3 separate regions of the Homo sapiens genome follow, and all the other regions are linked to region 3. The links come from fine-mapping of genetic effects on gene expression. Tissue or cell type: whole blood. Region 3 holds a variant in brackets; each other region holds the start of a gene. All regions are shown on one strand. Distances are between the middles of the regions.

The links. PIP is the estimated chance that this variant, and not a neighbour inherited with it, causes the effect.
Region 1: CDK5RAP3 starts here. The variant in region 3 is fine-mapped to the expression of CDK5RAP3 in whole blood (TOPMed, PIP above 0.99).
Region 2: it holds the start of PNPO, and the variant in region 3 is fine-mapped to the expression of PNPO in whole blood (TOPMed, PIP above 0.99).

Annotation. Positions count from the first base shown.
Region 1 is chr17:47,969,841-47,972,340 of GRCh38, reverse strand. It overlaps CDK5RAP3 (CDK5 regulatory subunit associated protein 3), which reads right to left and starts at 1,228. Exons shown (of 14, transcript NM_176096.3): 1 at 1,189-1,228; 2 at 934-979. The coding sequence starts at 1,194. RefSeq lists an enhancer at 239-866 and a silencer at 1,288-1,577.
Region 2 is chr17:47,940,045-47,942,544 of GRCh38, reverse strand. It overlaps PNPO (pyridoxamine 5'-phosphate oxidase), which reads right to left and starts at 974. Exons shown (of 7, transcript NM_018129.4): 1 at 732-974. The coding sequence starts at 869. SP2-AS1 (SP2 antisense RNA 1) reads left to right here and starts at 1,141. Exons shown (of 3, transcript NR_103857.1): 1 at 1,141-1,198. RefSeq lists an enhancer at 928-1,222.
Region 3 is chr17:48,016,492-48,019,247 of GRCh38, reverse strand. No RefSeq gene overlaps it. Among named protein-coding and RNA genes, the nearest start is that of MIR10226, 15 kb to the left of the region's middle. RefSeq lists an enhancer at 1,445-1,544. The variant CCTCTTT/T (reference allele first, on the strand shown) is at 1,607.

The DNA.
Region 1 (2,500 bases), 47 kb after region 3:
TTAAGGACAAGATTGGCATCAAATCCATGAATCCAATAAGCATTTTAAAATGCCAGGAGCTGTGTGATCAGATGAAGAGGCCTTCCCTGACTATGAACTGGGGAGGAAGTATGTAAGCCCCATACAGACAACCTGGAGATGGCCTGGACACTAAAAGGTTTTCATTTGCAACTGGGTCTTAGGTCCCTCTTCCTCCTAAAATCAAGGGGGAGGTGGAAGCTTTTTAAATGAGGTTTTTTTTTTTTTTCCTGGCATAATGCAAAAGGCATGGACAGTGGGTCAGACAGACTTAAGTTCCAATTCAGATGTGCCACTTAGTGGTTGACTGTTTTTTGTCTTCTTTTTGAGATGGAGTTTCGCTCTCGTTGCCCAGGCTGGAGTGCAATAGTGAGATCTCTGCTCACCGCAACCTCTGCCTCCGGGGTTCAAGCAATTCTCCCACCTCAGCCTCCCGAGTAGCTGGGATTACAGGCATGTGCTCCCATGCCCGGCTACTTTTTATTTTTATTTTTTTGTATTTTTAGTCATGGAGACATGGAGACAAGGTTTCTCCATGTTGGTCAGGCTGGTCTCGAACTCCTGACCTCAGGTGATTCGCCCACCTCGGCCTCCCAAAGTGCTGGGATTACAGGCATGAGCCACCGCGCCCGGCAGTGGTTGACTGTTTTTAAAGCGAGTCATTTATCCTGTCCCTGAATGATACGATAACATATGTTATTAAAGGAGAAAACGCAGGTCAAACAGACTGTACATATGGTTCGTTCCCGCTGCTATCAGGGAAGCAGGTCTGGCCACAGATGGGGCATAGAACGAGGCCAGTGGTCAGCATCTCGACTCAGGCTTTCAGGGGTCAGAGCTCCCGGCTATTGGACACAGGGGGCAACGCACAGGCCTCCCCCCGACAGCCAGCTGCGCGGTGGCGCCCCCTCCTACCGAGCAGCTTGCTGGTCTGGATGTCGATGGGCACGTGCTGATGGTCCTGGCGGGAAACACGGTGAGGAGGGGGGCGTGAGCGCGGAGAGAGGACGTACCACTCGCGCGCTCATTTCAACGTCCCAACCACCACCCTGCAGGGCCAGAACGGGGCCAGAGCGATGGGCTGGGTTGAGCCGCTTCCGGAGGGAGACCGGAGACACAGGTTAGGGGTCCGCGGCCAGTCCCCAGCACACCCAGCTCCTGTCCCCACACCTCCATCTTTCCTCCACTTCCGCTTCAGGCTGGAGACTGTGGCCCGCCCCGCCCTACCACCAATCCAGTGGCGTTGTGGCCGAGCCTCCGTTTAGACACAAACGGGCATCCTTCGGCCACGTCGCCGCCTTCCGTACAGCCAATCAGGGTTTACGCTCCACTCAGGCCTCAAGCCCCGCCCACCCCAGGCTCCGAATGGCTGAGCTCGGGAGGGGCGGGAGAATGGAGACAGCCAATTGGAGACGCGAGGCGGGCTCAGGGCAGGGGACGGGAGGGGGTGCGCTGCAGCGGCCGTGGGATTGCGACAGGCGGCGCTCGAGAGCCCAGCCTGGCAGCCGCTTCCCCTGGCGGGCACTGGGTCTTCTCCACGCAGATTGAGACGTCTGCTGGCGGGGTCCTAGCGCCGATCTGGGAGGCCGTTGCAAATACCTTCTTCCCTCCTTGCGTCGCTTTACCATCCAGAGCAGTGTGCAGGTCTCTTGTGGCACTTGTCATGCTTTGCCTCCTCATTCAGTTTCTCTAATAGACATGGTTGAGCACCTGCAACGTGTTGGGCGATTAGGGCAGGGAAGGGGAAGGAAGAGAGTCGGTGAGACGTCCCAAAGAGAACACCTACATTGAGTCTAAACGAAGAGCTGAAGATAGCTGGGTGATGTGGGAAGAGGAGTTTTAGGTGGAGGAGACTACACAGACAAAGCTTAGGTGGCCACAAACTGCAAGAGGGGTGCAAGCAACAACAGGCAGGCAGGACGGGCAACGTAATTTGTGAGGTCCAGTGCAAAATGGAAATGCACAGCTGCTTGTTACAAAATGATGAAGAATTTCAAGATGAAGTCGGCTCCGCGGGCAGGCCAACCTCTATACCGTAGATGGTTTGAGGCAGCGAGTGGCTAGAGGAGAGGCTGTAAGGGTGGAAAGGCCATATCAAAGGGAGACTTATTAAGGAACTTGGACTTCATCCCTTCAGACAGAGGAATCACAGAAGGGGTTTGAGGCAGGGAGGAACCTGTACAGATAGGCTGCTGGGATGATGGATGCATGGGAGATAAGACTGGGGACAAGGAGGCTGGAAGGAGGTTGTTATCGAGGGATTATAGCCTGAGCTGGGACACAAGATATGAGGAGGAAGGGGAAGGGCTGGATCTGAGGAATATTTAGGAGGAAAATGTATAGGACTTGGCAATTGATTGGCTGTTTGGGTGGAGGAGAGAGACACTAAGGATGACACCTAGGTGATTAGGTGGGAACCACCACCTGAGACAGGGATGCAGGATGCTGAGCAGGTGTTGGGGAGGAGGGGGTCTAGCTTTGA
Region 2 (2,500 bases), 77 kb after region 3:
CCTCCTCCCCGAGCTAGTCCCCTTCCCCCATATTCCACTTACTTTTTTGTCAAACAGTTTGTAAGCTGTTTGTCACTGTACCCACCTAAAGAGGGGCCCATGACCATGCCCACCTGGCACAAGGAGGTTTGGGTGACCCCCAAATCTCCTTGCCCCAGGGGGTGGCCCCAGAAGCCCTGAGGGGCTGTTTCCTCCTACTCCCCTCCCCCCAGTAGATGACTCCGAGGACCCCTCTTCCCCCGCCCTTGAGGGAGGCCCAGCACAGTCCTGACATCCATCACATGAAACCCCGATTCATTCATCACTAGCTGTGGGACTGAGCAAGTTATTTGACCTTGCTACCTGTCGAGTAGCAGGGTTCTAAGCACTTTACAAACATCTTAGACCATAACATCCCCGTGAGGCAGATACTATCACTTCCCAGATGAGGAAACTGAGGCCCAGATACATTAAACATTCCAACCCAGGCAGGCTCCAAAGTTCGAGCTCTTACCCATTACGAAAGGCTGCCTTTTGAACCCATCTTCATTTGCGTTTCCCCGGAACTCCTCCCCTGGTGGGATGTCTTTGAAGCCCCCTTTTCCCACGGGGGGTGATCCTCAAACCTCCTTGCCCCACCGGGTGGCCCCAGAAGCCCCGAGGGGCTCCTACTACTCCCCTCCCCGCTGTAGATGACTCCGGGGACCCCTTTTCCCCCGCCCCTGCAGGAGGCCTGGCCCTAGCGGCGGCACCTCTCGGTCCCCGCGGTAACTCTTGCGCATGGGTCCCAGGTCCATGGCAGCACTGCGACCACACAGGTGACTGAGGTAGCCTGGCCACTCGGCAGGTCGCCCGAACGTCGCCGTGACGCCCCGCAGCCAGCACGTCATGGGGGGCCGCCGGCCACGTGACCCGGCTGTGGCCCGGCACTGGGTTCCTTTGAGTTCGGAACCAATTTCTCACCCTGGACTTCTACCCCGGGGAAGGAAGGATTTGCCAGTCGCCCAACCAAGCTAACAGGTCCTAAGTCCTCGGAGCCAATGAGTTTCCAGGATCGGAGGAGGGAGACAGACACGGAGAGGTCATTGGTTGGAGCTTTTCGGTAACGAGGCCAATTAGAGCGAGAACAGAGGAACCCAGCGGCCAATGGGTAGCGCCTTTGGGGGCGGGAGCAGAGAGACAAGGAAATGCTGTCACCGCGGTTAACACGCACGTGGAGGTTGGTTAAAGGTATAGGAGGATCTCTTGCAGCTCAGGCGGGGCGGAGGATGTGTCCCGGGGGCTTGAGGGGAGTAGTCAGTATTAAGTGGCTGGCCCATAGTAGGTGCCTGTAGGTGAGCTTAGGGCAGGAAGTACCCCCTGGGAAGGGAGACTAGTGGAATGGGAAAAGAAAAATGGAAAATGGAATTAGGGGCCAGACTCTGAGGCAAGGTGATGGGGACACATAGAGAAAAGGGTAATCTGGTTGTGGGGAGAAATTAGGGCATGAGAGTGGGAGAGGTTGAAATGACTTGTGGACCATGCCCCGAGTGGGGAGGTGCAGTGGGGTGAGGAAGAGACGGTGAGGTGAGAAGGAAGATGGCTGAATGGGAAGGGGGAAGAAGGAAATTTGGGACCAAGGTATCCCAGACCAGAGTGGTTTTCCTCTTCTAGTTTTGGTTTTGTTTTGTTTTGTTTGAGACGGAGACTAGCTCTGTCGCTCAGGTTGGAGTGCAGTGGCGCGATCTCGGCTCACTGCAACCTCCACCTCCCGGGTTCAAGCAATTCTCTGCCTCAGCCTCCCGGGTAGCTGGGATTACAGGCGCCCGCCACCACGCCCGGCTAAGTTTTGTATTTTTAGTAGAGACGGTGTTTCACCATGTTGGCCAGGCTAGTCTCAAACTCCTGATCTCAAGTGATCTACCCGCCTTGGCCTCCCAAAGTGCCGGGATTATAGGCGTGAGCCACCGCGCCCGCCACCTCTTCTAGTTTTAAACCCCTTCCCTCCAGCCTCATTTATTTAAGCAAGGGTCAGAGCATTTTACTCCCTTTGCTCATGGTTTCCCCTGCCATGGTGCACTGGAGTTCATAGGAGCCAGTGTCCTGGTAGATAGCAAGGCTGCCAATGTCCCATTTCTCCAGGGTCTCCCCAATCTTTGTCAAGCTTCCCTTTTTCCACATTTTGCCCATGCTAGGTAGTAGGAGTCTAGCCCCTAGGTCAATGCAAGCAATTGCCAACTGAGAGTACACTGAGCAGGTGGCTGTGCATAGCCTTTCCAGGCTGTGGATGCAAGGCTGAAAAATGGGAAACCCACTCATGCCCAGTCCAATTCTGAGCTGGCTGGGGCGGCCTTGGGTCGAGACCTCTCTGTAGCCCTGCTTTCCACCAGCATCAGGAAGGGGAACTGCAAGAGCCATCTAGGCAGGCACCCAGGACTGTGCCAGGTAAGGGGAACTTCCTGGCCTGGCCAGGTGTCTGCATTACAGCTGAGCTTCATGAAGCCCTACATTAGATACCTGTCATCCTTTATGTGTACATAGC
Region 3 (2,756 bases):
GCTGCCAGTGAGCCCTCATCTGAAACAAACAAACAAATAAACTTGAGGATAGAAGAAAACTCTGGAAGTGATGAGGCTATAACCTTGCTTCCAGACAACAGCTTCTTAGTGAGTGACAGGGTGTTCTGGGGTGGGGATATATGGGGTGAGTAGGTGAGGACTCAGGTTCTGGGTGGAATGATTGGAAGACTGGTTTCAGCTGCTTACCATTCCTAGCAGCCTTGTGTTTGGAAGGTTGGAGGGCTCTTGGAACATCCTCTCCTAAGAGATGGCTGGAAAAGTCCAGAATTAATTTATCTTGGGGAAACAGGTAAGATAAAAACTTCTGGAATCGGCCGGGCGTGGTGGCTCACACCTGTAATCCCAGCACTTTGGGAGGCCGAGGTGGGCAGATCACGAGGTCAGAAGTTTGAGACAAGCCTGACCAACATGGTGAAACCCCGTCTCTACTAAAAATACAAAAATTAGCTGGGCATAGTGACGTGCGCCTCTGGTCCCAGCTACTCAGAGGCTGAGGCAGGAGAATCGCTTGAACCCGGGAGATGGAAGTTGCAGTGAGCCAAGATCGCACCACTGCACTCCAGCCCTGGGTGACAGAGCGAGACTCCATCTCAAACAAACAAACAAACAAAACTTCTGGGACCCAAAGTCCCCCAAAATCTCAGTGTTCTCCAGATGGCAGCAAGAAGAAGTAGCTCTCACAGGTTTGCCCAGAAGATGGTGCTGTAAGACAAGCCCCTCTTTCATCCTTAGCCTGGCCGGGATCAGTGACGGGACTATGAAAAGGCTTGCAGGAACCAGACCTAGAGGGCATCTCTACTCTCTATTGGGCAGGAGTTATCTCACAGTGCTGAGCATTGCAGTCCATTCCTAGATACTCCCTAGACCACAGAGGAGAACCTTGGGGGTTCCCACATCAGAGCTGTGAGCACCTCCATGGGAACACGAAGGTGAGAGACCCTGGGCACCTGGGACAGCAATTGTCCTGAGAAAACAGGGCCTCTGATCAAGAAACACTGTCAAGAAATACAGACCTGGCTGGGCATGGTGTCTCGCTCCTGTAATCCCAGCACTTTGGGAGGCCGAGGTGGGCAGATCACTTTAGGTCAGGAGTTCGAGACCAACATGGCCAACATGGTGAAACCCTGTTTCTACTAAAAATACAAAAATTAGCTGGGCATGGTGACACATGCCTGTAATCCCAGCTACTCGGGAGGGTGAGGCAGGAGAATTGCTTGAACCCAAGAGATGGAGGTTGCAGTGAGCCGAGACTGCGCCACTGCACTACAGCCTGGGTGATGGAGTGAGACTCTGTCTCAAACAAACAAACAGAAAACAAATACAGACCTTTTCCTCCAACTCTGGAGATTTGGACCCATTCCCCAAGGTAGCTGGGAGGTTGAGGAAGGGGTCTGAGGGGCTTGGGCACTGACTGAAGTTTATACTCTAAGGTAGAAAAAAAAAAGTGGATCTTTCTGGGAGAGCAAGCTAGAGGCCTTCAGATTAGGAAAGTGAAACTCAAAGGTTGACTTACCCAATGTCACACAGCTAACAAGGGACAGAACTGAGACAAGAAAGAGGGTTTCCTGGAACCCTCTTACCTCTT[CCTCTTT/T]CTGCCCTGTGTTTTCTGCAGATCATGAGAATATAACGTTTATAAATAGAATTCCCTTGACAAGGAGTGCCTTCCTGGGCAGTAAGAAAAAATAGCAGGGCTCTTGACTCAAAACCCCAATGCACATTTTTCTTTGCATGCTTTTTTTTTTTTTAACAGTCTCACTCTATCACCCAGGCTAGTGTACAGTGGCACAGTCTCTGCTCACTGCAACCTCCACCTCCCAGGTTCAAGTAATTCTCCTGCCTCAGCCTCTTGAGTAGCTGGGATTACAGGCACCTGCCACCATGCCTGGTTAATTTTTGTATTTTTAGTAGAGACGGGGTTTCACCATGTTGCCCAGGCTGGTCTCGAACTCCTGAGCTCAAGCAATCTGCCCACCTCGGCCTCCCAAAGTGCTGGGAGCCACCATGGCTGGCTCCAATAGCGTTTTCTAATTTTTATTTTATTTATTTATTTATTTATTTATTTATTTATTTATTTATTTATTGAGACAGAATCTTGCTCTGTCGCCCAGGCTGGAGTAAGTGGCGCCATCCTGACTCACTGCTGCATGTGCCTCCTGGGTTCAAGTGATTCTCGTGCTTCAACCTCCCAAGTAGCTGGGACTAGAGGCACACAACACCATGCCCAGCTAATTTTTGTATTTTTAGTAGAGACAGGGTTTCACCATATTGGCCAGGCTAGTCTCAAACTCCTGACCTCAAGTGATCCTCCCGCCTTGGCCTCCCAAAGTGCTGGGATTACCGACATAAGCCACCACGCCCAGCACGTCTGTTTTTTAAATAATGAAATTAATAAGTGAGTCCCATCAGCTGCACTTCTTTTCTGAGGATAATTTATATACAAGACACAGAAAAGCTTCTTGCACAATGTTCTTTTAATAGGATTTATGTAAACTCACATTTGTCAGGATCCGTAAAAGTATTCTATTTCTTTCACACATGTAATTTTTTTGTACCTCTATCTCAGTGAAGGAGGCAGGCGTTGTCATTCCCACTTGTGAGGTGATTGAGGATGCTCTCGGGTGCTGGGAGCAGAAGCAATGCGGCCTGAACCCAGGTATGGATTTCATTTTGAAGAAAGGTCTCCTTGTAGGGCACTATCCTGGACCCAGTGGGCCTGCCCTTCCTATTTATTTCTT